4 linked regions of the Homo sapiens genome follow. The protein of the gene in region 1 purifies or fractionates together with the protein of each later gene. This does not show direct contact. Each region holds a gene or a part of one and is shown on either strand. Other genes may lie near its edges.

What was found. The genes of interacting proteins can lie anywhere in the genome.
Region 2: the proteins of LGALS9C (region 1) and CD47 purify together in Homo sapiens (affinity purification with mass spectrometry; 2 studies listed by BioGRID and IntAct, with this or other methods). This does not show direct contact.
Region 3: the proteins of LGALS9C (region 1) and CD58 purify together in Homo sapiens (affinity purification with mass spectrometry, with the first as the bait; one large-scale study listed by BioGRID). This does not show direct contact.
Region 4: the proteins of LGALS9C (region 1) and SLC26A6 purify together in Homo sapiens (affinity purification with mass spectrometry; 2 studies listed by BioGRID and IntAct, with this or other methods). This does not show direct contact.

Annotation. Positions count from the first base shown.
Region 1 is NC_000017.11:18,486,789-18,490,288, reverse strand, and holds part of LGALS9C (galectin-9C), read right to left. Parts: intron 3,390-3,500; exon of another isoform or gene 3,373-3,389; coding exon of another isoform or gene 3,349-3,372; intron 2,643-3,348; coding exon 2,532-2,642; intron 1,349-2,531; coding exon 1,253-1,348; intron 1-1,252. UniProt on the Homo sapiens protein: Binds galactosides.
Region 2 is NC_000003.12:108,081,032-108,084,531, forward strand, and holds part of CD47 (leukocyte surface antigen CD47 isoform 1 precursor), read right to left. Parts: intron 1-3,500. UniProt on the Homo sapiens protein: Adhesive protein that mediates cell-to-cell interactions. Acts as a receptor for thrombospondin THBS1 and as modulator of integrin signaling through the activation of heterotrimeric G proteins.
Region 3 is NC_000001.11:116,543,527-116,547,026, forward strand, and holds part of CD58 (lymphocyte function-associated antigen 3), read right to left. Parts: intron 3,435-3,500; exon of another isoform or gene 3,352-3,434; intron 1,299-3,351; exon of another isoform or gene 1,175-1,298; intron 1,079-1,174; coding exon 785-1,078; intron 1-784. UniProt on the Homo sapiens protein: Ligand of the T-lymphocyte CD2 glycoprotein.
Region 4 is NC_000003.12:48,625,462-48,628,961, forward strand, and holds the end of SLC26A6 (solute carrier family 26 member 6), read right to left. Parts: intron 3,254-3,500; coding exon 3,161-3,253; intron 3,081-3,160; coding exon 2,973-3,080; coding exon of another isoform or gene 2,954-2,972; intron 2,578-2,953; coding exon 2,485-2,577; intron 1,612-2,484; coding exon of another isoform or gene 1,595-1,611; coding exon 1,415-1,594; intron 1,225-1,414; coding exon 1,170-1,224; intron 894-1,169; coding exon 757-893; intron 540-756; coding exon 525-539; 3' UTR 262-524; downstream 1-261. UniProt on the Homo sapiens protein: Apical membrane anion-exchanger with wide epithelial distribution that plays a role as a component of the pH buffering system for maintaining acid-base homeostasis.

The sequences.
Region 1 (3,500 bases):
TTAAGCAACTTGCCCAAGCTTGCCCGGGTGGAAGGGATCAAATCCAAAATGGCAGCCAATTCTGTCTGACTGTATCCAGCACACTTTCTGTCATCCCTAGGGCCAGGGCCAGCGCCAGGGCCAGGGCCAAAGTTTGGCTGCCCTGCGAATGTTCCCTGGGGCTCCACCAGTCCTGAAGTCAGCGTGGCAGGAGGCAGGTGCACTGTCTGTACCATCATGGGCCATAAAAAGGCTACATAGACAAAGCGCCCCTCCTCCCAGTCCCCACTGCTTGAGTGGCCAGAGGAAGGGCTGCCCACCTCCTTGTCGTGGATCCTGCCCCACCCAGTAGACTGTTCTTGCCCTGGCTGGTATCCCATTCTCCCTGGCTGCGAAAACCACATTCCACATTCATCCATTCTTCGAGTCCCTAAGTGAGTGCCAGGCACTGTGCAAATGAACGACCCACAGTCCCAGCCCTCTGGGGCCTCATGGGCATAGGGAGATGGGGGTGGAGTGACAGGGACAGACACGCAAACAGTTACAATGGGGTGCTGTGAACTGGCATGGCACAGATATGTACAGACTCCGTGGGGGCATGGGGGGAGCATCCAACAATATTCTGGGCAGGGAGGACTCCCAGAGGAGCGACACTTTGGCAGAGCATGGAAGGGCGATTAGGCGTGTGCTGAGGGCAGGCTGGCAGAGGGTGCTTCCGGGACCAGGGACAGCATATGCAAAAGCATGGTGGCCCGAGAGGGCCTTGAGTGAGCCGTGGAGGTTGCATGAGCTTCGTGGGTTGGGGGTGAGGCAAGGAGGTGGACTGGGGCCAGACTGGGGAGGAATTCGTATGCCCTGCTGGGGAATTTGGGCTTTGTTTAAAGGGCTGGGGACTTTTAAGATTTTTAAGCAGGGAGAGAGTGTGATCAGATTTGCTTATAAGAAGGTCACTGTGGCAGCGGTTGGGTGTGGGGGGTGGGGAACTGGACCCCTGTAGTCATGGTGAGGAATCCCAGAGGCCTGGGCCACATCGGTGGCTTTGGGAGGGAGATATGTTGGTGCCTTGGAGAGACATAAAGAAAGGGTAGTGAAGAATCCAGGGCAACACCCAGGTCCCCGGCTCTGGGTGCCCAGCAGACAGAGACAGGGAACTCTTGAGTGGGCAAGATGTGGCCCATAGGCCCTGGTGGCCTGCTGGCTGGGGCCAGCCTCTCAAACCCTCGGTCCTTCCTGCTGTCTGCTCAGCCACCCAGGGCCTCTGTGTTGAACTCACTTTTTGTCTGCGCCCCCTGGGCCTGGGTGGGAAACAGACAGGCTGGGAGAACGGCACCGTGGAGAAGGCAGGCTGAACGGGGACTGCGCGGGGATTCTGTTAAAACAAAAGGCACCGGCCGGTGAGGAGAAGCATTAATAGAGCCAAGGAGAAGCCGAAAGGCAGATGCAGGGGCAGGAGGCAGAGAACAGGCAGGCAGGGGGATGCAGCAAGGGGGTTAGGGCCACACGGAGGCGGGAGCGGAAAGGGCCAGGCTTCGGTGAGCAGCGCAGGGGGACAGTCTCCCTCCAGCTCTTCCCTCCCCTTCCACCCGCAGGGGAGAGAGTCAGGGAAGGAGGGAATGAGAGATGAGGACCAAAGGGTGAGGAGCCCAGATTTGCTGAGGGCCTACTGTGCACTTCGCTCATCTCAGGGAGCTCCCTTGAATGCCAAAAGGGTAACAGCAGCTCCCATCCAGCTGCCGGTGCCCTGTGGGAATGTGGGCCCAGCATACCCTAATCTTCCCATTTTTCACGTGGTGTTGGTATCTCCTGACCTTCTTTAGTTTTATTTATTTTATTTTATTATTCAAACAAAAAGATTTTAGAGATGGGGTCTTGCTATGTTGCTCAGGCAGAACTCTAATTCCTGGGCTCAAGCGATTCTCCTGCCTCAGCCTCTTGAGTAACCAGGATTGCAGACCTCCACCACCATACCTGGGTCTCCTGACCTTTTAGATGTTGGCAACGCATTCAAAGTTTTTAAAACACAGAGGTCACACAGACCCTGGTGTGGGCCCAGGGGCGCCATTGTGTGACCTCTGATATCTGTCTCCTCAATGAATCACACAACCACCCATGGGGGGCAGGCAATGACCATGCTCATTCTACAGATGACAAAACTGAGGCTGAGAGAGGCAAAGTTGCTTGTCTAAGATCCCACAGATGACGAATGGCAGAGCTGGGAATTTGAACTGGATTCAGTTTGGTTCTTGAGCCTGGGCTCTTTCTAGAACAATATGCCCTCCTTACCAGGATGGAAATTGACGGATGAAGAGAAAGGGGCAGCTGAGGAGTCTGGGAGACCAAGGCAGGTGTTCCAGACAGAGACAGTGACACAGAAGGAGGGGCAGAGTGACAGAGGAGAAGGGGCGGGCAGGTACTGGGACAGGGAAGCAGAGGTTGTCCCCAGAGTGACCTGGGTAGGAGATTGGCTTGGGTCCCCCCAGCTGGGCCTAAGCACAGCTACGCTGGGCCCTGCATCCCAGCCCCTGGGACCGGTGCCAGGTGGACAGTCTGACCTGGAAGCTGATGTAGGACAGCTGCACAGAGCCATTGACGGAGATGGTGTCCACACGGTGGAAGGGCACGCGGTGGAAGTACTGCACGAAGAGGCTCCCGTTCACCATCACCTGCCAGAGGAGAGCACGTATTTCGGGGGAGGTGCCCCAGGCCGGGATGGGGACCACCCCTGAGCTCCTGGTCCCTCCTTCTAAAAAATGAAGACCTGAGTCTGGTCTTCAGTGTGGGGCCAGTTACAGGGACGTGTGTGTGGCCCGAAGTGCATCAACCGGAGTCTCTACTGGGCTCCAGTCGGGCTTTCCATTCTTCTGGTTGTTTCCTTCCCCTTTCTTCTCACTCCTCGATTTCCAGCCTGGTTAGGAGGCCATATTGTTCCAGAAAGAGCCCATGCTCAGGAACCAAACTGAATTTCCTGGGGTTTCATTTATTTATTATTTTTCCTTCAACTTTTTTTTTTTTTTTTTGAGATAGAGTGTCACTCTGTCAGCCAGGCTGCAGTGCAGTGGTTCAAGCGATTCTCCTGCCTCAGCCTCCCGAGTAGCTGGGATTACAGGCATCCACCACCACACCAAGCTAATGTTTGTATTTTTAGTAGAGACGGGATTTCACCATGTTGGCCAGGCAGGTCTTGAACTCCTGACCTCAAGCCATCTGTCCTCCTCACCCTCCCAAAGTGCTTGGATTATAAGGGTGAGCCGCCGTGCCCAGCCCCTTCAACTTTTATTTTAAGTTCCAGGGTATGAGTATAGGATCTGCAGGTTTGTTAACTAGGTAAATGTGTGCCACAGTGTTTTGCTGCACAGATCAACCCTTCACCTTGGTATCAAGCCCAGCATCCATTAGCTAATCTTCCTGATGCTCTCCGTCCCCGACCAGGCCCCAGTGTGTGTTGTTTCCCCGCTTGTGTCCATGTGTTCTCATCGTTCAGCTCCTACTTATAAGTGAGAACTTGCGGTGTTTGGTTTTCT
Region 2 (3,500 bases), on another chromosome or scaffold:
CCCCACATTTCATTGACACTACAGAACAACAGTCTCCAAATGTATATTATGGGTATTCTTCCTCCAAGAAACCACAAAACGGTGAAAAAGCTAAGTAAGATGCAAGTTGAAACCAAGAGCAGTTACTGCTAATAAGCATCCTATCTACGCTTCTCAATAGGATAAACTACCAGTTGTTGCCTTATAGAAGAGGCACTGGGTAAATAAATGTAATCACTCATTGTTCAACTAAAATGTACAAGAATGTGTAGGAATTGTAGTTGTCTTCCATATTCTTCAGCCACTCAGCAACTCTTTTACCTAAGTAGCTACTTGGCCTTCCCCTCAAAACATAAACAAAAACAAAACACAAATTACTAACAAATATAAATAAAATATCAACTTTGTTAATAGTTCACACTTAAGATTTACTTCTACATAAACTGGAATAAAAATCAGAGGCATAGAATGTTTCTATTGTAAGAACACTATGTTTACTCAATAAATACCCCATGAATTGAATGCAAGGATGCATACTGGAATATAGGTACTGGACAATGTTCAAAACACCTGAGTAAAAATACTATTTCTGCCCCTTTTTAATATGCTGCCTTAAGCAACTCACTTTTCTATGCCTTGGTTTACTCTCTAAAATAGGAGGATCTCTTAAGTAGGAGGATCAAAAACAAACACCGGGCTACTTCACAGAACTGTGTTGAGCATTAACATGGAAAACATAGCGGCAAGTGCTCTCTAAACAATACTATGCTGTAAAAATGTAGGGTGATACTATAAAAACTAGATAATCTGGCATTTTAATGTAATGATATGGGCCCTCTTTGACTAGTCCAAATTGTTATATTTCTGGGAAATTGCAGTCTGAACCTATATTGTGGGCATCCACAGCTCACCTCTTCCCAGTTTTCTACATTTCTAGCCACCCAAATACTAGGAAGCCCAAGGCAAAACCTGGACTTCCGTTGCATTCTTTAAAACTTTGGAATTGTGAATTATTTCCCCTGAGAGAGAAACACTGAGGGAGAGAGGACATAGTATACCAGAGAAGAATAAAGGGGTGAAGATGTTCAAATTATAAAGGAAGGAAAGTATCAGAAAATATGGTGAAGATTTTGAAAGGGATACAAAGACTACTGGGTATCCTTTCAGTCAAGTGCTGGGCAATGTCTAACAGACGCTTTGGAATTATCTGACTCTATAGAAGCCTGTGCCTTTCACTGACTTTGACTGGGCTGTTTTACAGTTTCATAAGTTGTAGAAAACTGAGAGTAATTCAAATGGATTGCTGTCCATACAGATAAAAATAAATCTTGTTCTGCAATTGATTTCCACCTGGTGGAAGAGAGGATTCCAAAAGACTACATTTTACTGCCCTGAGGATATTGACCAATTTTGCATTTATTAGCAAATTCATTTAGGCATTCTTGATTGCCTATAAATGTGTCTGTTTTTCCAATTTTCTTTTAAAAGGGTTTTGCCTTCTTGCTAGTTTGCTTGTTAATTAATTAGTGAAATAAAATCTTTGACACATGTTCATTTTATATTTGTATGAATCATGGTTTGACTTTCAAGAGATTATTCTTAAAAAAAAGAGGTACGAATGAAGAACTCAGTCATCCTATGAAACTTTTTGCAAAGGCTTTAATTAAGTAAGTAAGAAGTAGTTGGTGAACAATCCACCATTTCATAACATATGTTTAGAGAATGAATTTTCAAAGGAATACAGAAAGCAATAATTATACTGCATTATTTGTTACAATAAAAACATTTTATAGCTGAAGCAATTTAAGTAGAATAAATGCTATTAGTAAAAATAACAGTAAAATTGACCTGGATAAACCACAATTTGAATAACCTTTGCACTAGTAATTAATAAATAAGGGCAGGCCAAAAATATCACTCTAGCTGTTAACTACAACTTCAATCTCTATAAAGATGCATTAAAAAACTATTAAGTAGTAAAACTGTCTGATTTGGGGTTTTTTCCTTTTGCCTACTCCCTTCTCATAAAACAGCAAAGTGAAGAAACTATTTAAAATGTAGAGAGCAAATAAAGAAACACAGATAATTAACATGAATAAGAAAACTCTGAATAAACAAGATATGCTTATAGCAGTCTAAATCAGATAGCAGCAGACAAATGTAACCAAGAGTAATGCCAGAGTTATAGATAAATTAGCAAATAAAATGGGAAAATGATTTTATATCAAATGCCAAAAGTATTAGACTTGAAACCTTCATTGGAACTGTACAAGTATTGGTGAATATAGACTATCAGCCCAAACCATCTCATATCATAGTCTAGAAAAGAGCTTTGTAGTGGCAGAGAAGACTCAATCCATGGTGGTCACAGCACACAAGTTCAGGTTAGAAATTTTAAAAATGCAATCAACATTTGTCAAGAATTACCTGTGATGAAATATTGTGATAGGATGTGGGGATATAGTGATGAAAAAATATAGTTATTATCTTTTAGGAGCTTACAATTCTCAAATGGGCGATGATAAGTATATAATACAAGGTTACAAGTGTTATCTTTTCTGCATGGACAACGTCCTTATGGATGGGCAGAAGAGTAATTGGTCTTACAGATTTCTAAGAAAATTCATGTTGCTAATAGGCAAAAACAGAAGAATGTCATAGTCCCTGCTCCTCCGGGCCTTCAATCTTTACCATTTTACATATTTCATGTAAATGTTCGCTTCTTTTTAACAACTCTTAAATTACTCCCTTCTGCCCTTTATCCCATACTCTCCAACAGTCCTCTCTCCCTATTTCTTAATACAAACTGAAACCTTCAGAGGAGAATCCTGAAGCTTCCAATACTCCTTCCCTATAAACCTACCTGTAACCCCAACTATCCACACCTTTTTTTTTTTTTTGCTTCCTTTTCTGAAATGAATCCCATCACCTGAAAGCTAGTTTCCATTTCTGCCTCCATACCCATCAGTCTCCTCAACGACTTTCCTTAGTTGATTATCAGCCTCCCACATCCCCCATTCCATTTACAAGGTGTTGTTTTTGTGTGTGTCTTTAAAAATTGCTTGAATATTTGCCAACTTAAAAAAAATCCCTCATACTTTCTCTCTCCCTAGCATCCCAAATTAACAATCTATAAGCATTTCCTCACTTCCAATTCACTCCTTAAATCTGTTACGTGGCCTCCACCCATTCACCCCTACTTCTTCATTACTACAGCTCTTGCCAAAGTCACCACCAATCCCTTGTGAAAAATCAAATATGCATGGTTCACTTTCTGTCTTGACTTTTCCACAGTTCTTGAGCCAGTGGGCAGTCTCTTTCTTGCTCTTCTCTCTTGGCCTCCATGGTATCTCCTGATTACGAATTTCCTCCTGCTTTGTCCACCCCATCCTAGTTTGCTTTCTTTGTTGAAATCTATTCCTTGACTCACACTAAATGTTAGTGTCCCTAAGGGCTTCAGATTCAGTACCCTCTGCCCCCTAGTATTTTCCCTGACTCCCATGGTTTTCTTCACCTGCAAA
Region 3 (3,500 bases), on another chromosome or scaffold:
GGGCCTATACAAGACTGCAACACAAAAGGGGCTTTAGAGACCAGGGAGGAGTGTCAGTGAGAAGCAGGGAGAAATGTGTCCCCTCTCTCTAGTTTCAGTTTAAAATGGTGCAGGAGCTGGGTGTGGTGGCTCATGAGTGTAATCCCAGCACTTTGGGAGGCTGAGGCGGGTGGATCACCTGAGCTCAGGAGTTTGAGACCAGCCTGGCCAACACAGTGAAACACCATCTCTACTAAAATACAAAAATTAGCTGGGCATGGTGGTGCGGGCCTGTAGTCCCAGCTACTTGGGAGGCTGAGACAGTAAAATCACTTTGAACCTGGGAGGCAGAGGTTGCAGTCAGCCAAGATTGTGCCACTGCACTCTGGCCTTGGTAACAGAGTGAGACTCCTTCTCAAAATAAATAAATTAATTAAATAAAATGGTGCAGGAGGAAAAACAATCTCCCCGCTGTGTGGGGAAGCAGGAACTTTATAGAGTAACATCTATCAGTGGAGCCCAAAGAGTTCTAAGCTAACTGCTGTCACTACATCTCTTTCCAAAACATTCCTAGTAAGACAACTGATACTGTTCTCCCCACCTTGGTTAGATTCTCTCCTCACCCAGAGGAATGACAAAGGAATTGAAAGTAGCTAGCTCCTCTATACCAGAAAAGGAGAAAACCCTGACAACAGGTAACATCTAATTCTTTTCTCATAGACCATTAATTTGTGCTAGTCTCTGAAAACAGACTAAAAAAATGGAAATTTGCCATTTTAAACAAATCAACTTATGGAATACTCACCAAGCACATAAAGAAAGAACTTCATGGTATCAGTAATATTTGGCGATTCCATTTCATACTCATCTTCATCTGATGATGTTAAGTTGTAGATAGTGAGGCTACCTGACACAGTGTCTAAATAAACCCTATTTTTAAAAGATGAGAAAGCTCTGAATTCAGAATTTTCCAGTTCTGCAACTTTATCCTTTTGTTTTTTCCATAGGACCTCTTTTAAAGGCACATTGCTTGGTACATGGAAAGTTACATTCCCATACACAACACCATATATTTGTTGGGAAAAACAGCTGATGAAACCTAGGAGAGAAAAAAAAATTGGTTAGAAAAAACAACATGACTTTGGTGGCAGAAATTATTCATCAGGTACTTTTTGTGCTAAGCTGACAAACTGCTGACACAAAATACAGGAAGTAAGAACATGTTTGACCATGTGGAGCTTACTCTTTAATAGAAAACTGGGACCTGCATAAATCCAAGAAATGGACCCGACATTCATGGAGCACCAACCATCTGCCAGGTAGTACGGGCTGGGCTGGGAATATGGGGTTGTTCCAGGCCCTCCAGGAGCCTCACGTGTGGAGAAGACAGGGAGCAGGCTCTACATCAGGGGCTGCATGAGGGGAGCTGCCTGGTCTAGGGCCTCCCCAAGGAAGTCATGCTGGAACTGACATAACGTGCAAATCACTGAAGGATAAAAGGCAGTTAGGCCGCAGGGCTGGGTAGGTGAGTGGGTGGGGAGTGGAAGAAGAGATGATCATACAGATATATAGGAAGCAGCACCCCCAAAGGAAGGCCCTGAATGGAGAAAGAGCATGGTGTGCTTGAGGATACACACGTGATTCCTAACAGCTAGAATGAGGAGGGCAAGGGGTGGCTGGTGGGGAACAAGACAGACAAAGGCCAGCCCACAGCCTATGTGTGCTAAAGTAAGGAACGCTAAGGGTTTGGACTGATCCTAATGGAGAGGAAGCCACAGAAAGGTTTTTAACAAGACTGGCCTAACATAATTTAAGTGTCAGCAGGCTGACTGTCTTTAGAGTAGAGAGCGGCTGACAGGGGCCAGCACAGAGGCAGGGAAATTATAATGAAAGTCAATGCTGTAGCAATGAAGTCCATGGACAGGACAGACCAGAGCAGGGTGTTTGTAGTGGGGACAGACAAGCGGACAGACTCAGGAGATGCTGGAGAGAGAAGTCAACAGGATTCAGTGATGAGGGTGGGGGAAGTGGATGGGACTGTCAGGTCTCCTTGGCTGACTGAGAGGCATCATTAACTGAGATCAGAAACAATGGCTGGGAAGCAAGTCGAGGGTGTGATGAAGATTAAGAACTCAGGGATTGGGTGCAGTGGTGGGTTGGAGCCAGGTCCACCTGCCCTCATGAGCCAATTGTTAGCATCTCTGCCCAGCCCTATTAGGGAACATCTAGTAACAGCACAGAAACTGACTAATGCTTCACATCAGAACCTCCATACCAACCTAGTTGTTAAACATTTATTAGAACCACAAGATTGGGATATTTTTGATACCCCAAAGTGGGTTTAAATGCATCTTGCTCTAGGACTTGTCTCTTGTTAAGAGAGAACAGCAGCTGGGTCCTGTGGTTCATGCCTGTAAGTCCAGCATTTTGGGAGGCCAAGGTGGTTGGATTGCTTGAGTTCAGGAGTTCAAGACCAACCTGGGTAAAATGGCGAAACCCCATCTTTACGAAAAGTACAAAAAATTAGCTGGGCATGGCACACACCTGTGGTCCCCAGCTACTTGGGAGGCTGAAGAGGATTACTTGAAGCCATGAGGCAGAGATTGCAGTCAGCCATGATTGTGCCACTGCACTCCAGCCTGGGTGACAGAGCATGACCTGTCTCAACAAACAAACAAAAAACTGCAGCTATTTTAAGTTAACATTAAAGAGCAATTAAAATTTGACTGAAGTTTTTGCCTAGTAGCAATTAGGGTAATTGAAATAATACAGGGGAAATCAAGAACACTGAATGACCAGTTGTAGACAACTGTGTTAGTAATTTCAGATAAGAAGCAAATATCACCCATTTGTTTATCTACAAGGACTTTTTAGAACCCATCTCCCTTAATTAAGGGGAACTGCCCTCAAAAACACACCAGCATCTTTCCATTGCTTTGCCGATTATGCATTATTTCCTCCACTCAACAGAGTATGTGGGAAGGCACAAGAAAAAGTACAGAATTCAAGGGGTGAGAGTCTACCACACACAATAGTGGAAACTCAAAAATGTCTTATAAATGTAAATGAAACAATGAGTGATAGAGGGCAGGGTGGTGGTGAAAGAGTAGGTATGAGATAAACTGCCATACCCTGGCGGCATGAAGATGTCTTTTGTCTTTCCCAGGGAGAGCTGATGTATCCTGGGCTTGAGAACAGTAGAAGAAAGTAGTCAGGAATGGAGCTAGTGGTGGAGGGAAGTGAGGGTAGAGAAAGGGGAGACTGCAGCTCAGAAGAAATCAAAGTACAGTTGACCCTTGAACAACATGGGTTTGAGCTGTGTGGGTCCACTTACATGTGGATTTTCTTCCGCCTCTGCCATCCCTGAGATAGCAAGACCAACCCCTCCTCCCACTTAGCCTGCTTTAACGTGAAGATAATGAGGATGAAGACCTTTGATGATCCACTTTCACTTAGTAAGTATATTTTCTTCCTTATGCTTTTTTTTCTTTTTTAAATTTTTTTATTACTATTATCTCAAT
Region 4 (3,500 bases), on another chromosome or scaffold:
CCTGAGAGCAAATTATTCCTGAGAAGCAGCTCTGGTTCCAACTGTTTCACATCTGAGGAGACAGCGAGTGAGGGCTATGCATGGCTGGGGAGAGACCTTAACAGGGGATGCCTCCACAGCTCCCCTGCTCTGTACCCTAACCTCCCGAGTCCTTCCTACACCTTCTGCCCCGTCTCACCTTCAGGGCACAGGAAGGGTCAGCAGCCACAGCTGTGGACCACCCACCACCAGGGCCCCACCAAGCCACAGCAGAGACTGGAGTTGAGCAGACAAATCTTTATTCCTGAGGCTAAAATATGCACCAGTTCCCTCCCTGTACCGCGCCACTGCCAGCCTGACTGCATGCAGGCCCTGTCCCAGACCTGGAGCGCTGAACTTGGAGTCCCAGGACCTCCTTCCCTGAGTTGTGTGTGTGTACATGGAGGGGACTCCTGGGTAGCACCTGGAGGCGGCCTAGGGGTGAGGGGCTTCTCAAGGGTGCCCTGCACCTCCAGAGGTGCAGTCTTGGGCAGGATGTAGCATGTTCAGAGTCTGGTGACCTGAGCAGGCAGAGGAGGGGAGGCTCTAGTCAGTTTCCAAAGGACACAGACCAACCCCCGCCCCTAGAACAGCTTTATCCAAAGACAGCGGAGAAAGCACTGGGCCCACTGGGGACAGAGCCATGGCCACCAGGAAAGACTCCCTGGAGCTGGGGCCAGGGTGGGGACAAGCAATAGATTAACAAAAAAGAGCTTGGCAGGCCAGAGGTAGGCTCACCGAAACAGGGCTGTCGGGGACAGGCCTCGGGTGTTGGAGGGCAAAGGTGACAGCATCATGGACAGAGGCAAAGAGATGCTTCTTGGTGATGGATGCATCGAAGAAGTGCCCAGCCTCAAGCTGGCTGACCACAGGGCCTGTGGGCAAGAAGTAGGCCTCCCCTGACTCTCAGAACCTCTAGGAACTCAACTCCCGGGAGCCAACAGAATGCCCTGACCTCATCACCCCTGACCTCCACCCCTGAGGCTACAGCTGAATCCACATCACTTGTAACCCTGGACTCCTGTCTCCCAGGACACCTCTGACCTCCAGTTCCAGAGAAAGACTTTTTCCTTGTGCTACTTGGAAAACCCCTTGGCCAAAAGTATCCTACCCTCTTCCCAGGTCCCTCCTGCTGTTCCCACCCTACTCACTGTGGCAGGCCGCCATGTACACCTCCACCTCAATCTCCCGGAAGTCATGGAAAATCTGTAGCGGAAAAGGGGGCCAGCCTCAGAGGGAGGCTCAGGGACTCAGAGGGGGGCTCGGGCAGGCTTGGGGAGGGAGTTTAGAAGGGGAGCTTTGAGGGTTTGGGGAGTCAGAGGCTGGGAGTGCTCTCAGGGCAAATTACAGGGTCAGTGTGGAAGCTCGAGGGGCCTTGGCCTGCCCCCGTCCTTACATTCTTCAGGCTCTTGAGGCACACAGTGTCCACAAAGGAGAGGGCACCCAGGTCCAGGATGAGGCTGTGGAAGTCTGGCTGAGGCAGGCCCAGGGCCTTCAGTGTGGACCCATCTGGGGCCTTGGAGTCTTCTTGACCATTGGCTGTTGCATCTTCCATCTTATCTCCTGAGCTCACCTGCTGGGGAGCCAGACATGCTGCCAGGGCCACCCATGAGAGAGTGAAGGCAGGACTGGCCGCACACAGACACGCGAGAACACGCAAGGTCAGATGGGGAGCATGCATGGGACACATAAGGACACAAACATGCGGGAGTCACATAGGTGTGCAAAGACAGGAATGACAGATGTGTGGGGACATGCAGGAGGGCACACCCAGATGTGCATATACTGCTCTGCTACCTCCTGGGCCGACGCTGCACAGGGACACGAGAAGGGAGTCCCTGTCCCATTCTCATCAGCCAGGGCTGAGTGGGGAGGGGGCCCAGGAGCAGGCCAGAATAGACACGGGCATCCACATGAAACGCATGCAGACACCTCGGCACCCTGCCCTGTCTCAGTCTCTAATTAAGTTTGGCATCCTCTTTGACCCCTCAATTTTTTTTTTAGAGACGGGGTCTCGCTTCATTGCCCAGGCTGAATGCAGTGGTTATTCACAGGCACCATTAGAGCGCACTGCAGCCCCGAGCTCCTGGGCTCAAATGATTTTCCCGCCTTAGCCTCCCGAAGAGCTGGGACTACAGGCGCGTACCACCACGCCTGCCTTTGACCCCTTGATTTTCTCCCATATACCCCATCCCTTTCCTCTACCCATGAGCAGACTCTGGGGGAAGTCTTGTGGGATCTACAAATTCAAGGTCTTCATCTAGGCCTGAGAATCTAAGCCTAGATTCTGTGGCATATCACGACGCTCCCTGAAGAATATCTGACCCAGCCTCCCCACTCCTCCTGCCATCGGCGCAACACCCTCGAGCCCACAGCTGCTGGGTCCATGGCATTCCTCATGAGACATGTGGATCCTGCATCTCTGCAGCTCACAGCTGTCACCTCCTTTCCCACCTCCAGTCTCACCATCATCTTGCAGTCCTCAACGTTGTTGCTCCTCATGTCTTCAAGGCTGGTGTTGACATTAATGGAAACTGAGGCGCCCTTGGGGGAGGCAGCCTACACCAGGGAAGACAGGGAATGGGAAACAGCTAGCCCGGCTGCCATGACAGCCATGTCACATAGGCCTGGTGATGCCCCCTGGTGCTGGGCAGGTGGGTGGGCCAGGACCAGAAGCTGTGGGACCTGCAGCAGCCAGGCTGAAGCTCCTGGAACAGCCGTGAAAGGGAAGAGGACTGTGACGGTTCTCACTGTCACTGGTTCAGATGATGGGAGAGAAAATGCTGCCTAGAGCCCGGACCTGCTAGGGGAGTGAAGCAGGGTCCCTGGGAGCATGAGGGAGAAAGGGGAAGGGATGAGGAGTGAGGACGAGGGAGGAGTCGGGGGCCAGGAGAAAGGCTGGGGCAGGGAACAGGGGGCAGGAGATGGGGGTCACCAGACAAAAGGGGCCCTGCCTGTTTCCGAAGCTTCTCCTCTTTCTGCAGTTGCTTCAGCTTCAGCTGCTCCTGCTTCTTGAGCAGTTTCTTCTTCTGGGAGATGAGGAAGTCGACATCCACACCACACTGGAGGCAAACATCAGAGAAGGGTTGGTGAGCTCTCTGGGAGCTGGGGCCTGACACCCATCCTGGGGACTCCGTCTCACCCTCTGCTTCAGCGCATCACTGTAGAACTCAGCATTGGCAAAGTACACGGTGGCCGAGGAGCGGAAGACCTTCACCCCCCGGACTTCCTTGGCCTGGGGATGAGGCAGAACTGGTGGTGGCTGAATCTCCTCTCTCCTGGCTGCATCCTGTTCTCCTGCCTTTCCTTCCCTAGTGTGCCCAGTGCCTGCCACCGCCCAGCCCTCTGCTCCCCAGGCTGCAGTCCAGGCCCTCCCAGGGGCTTAGGCCACAAGCCCGACGGTGTCATCCCCATCCCCCCACAGTGCCTCTCCCTCCCCACCTCTCCTGCCACCACCCAGGCAGGCTTCACAGGCTCTTAAC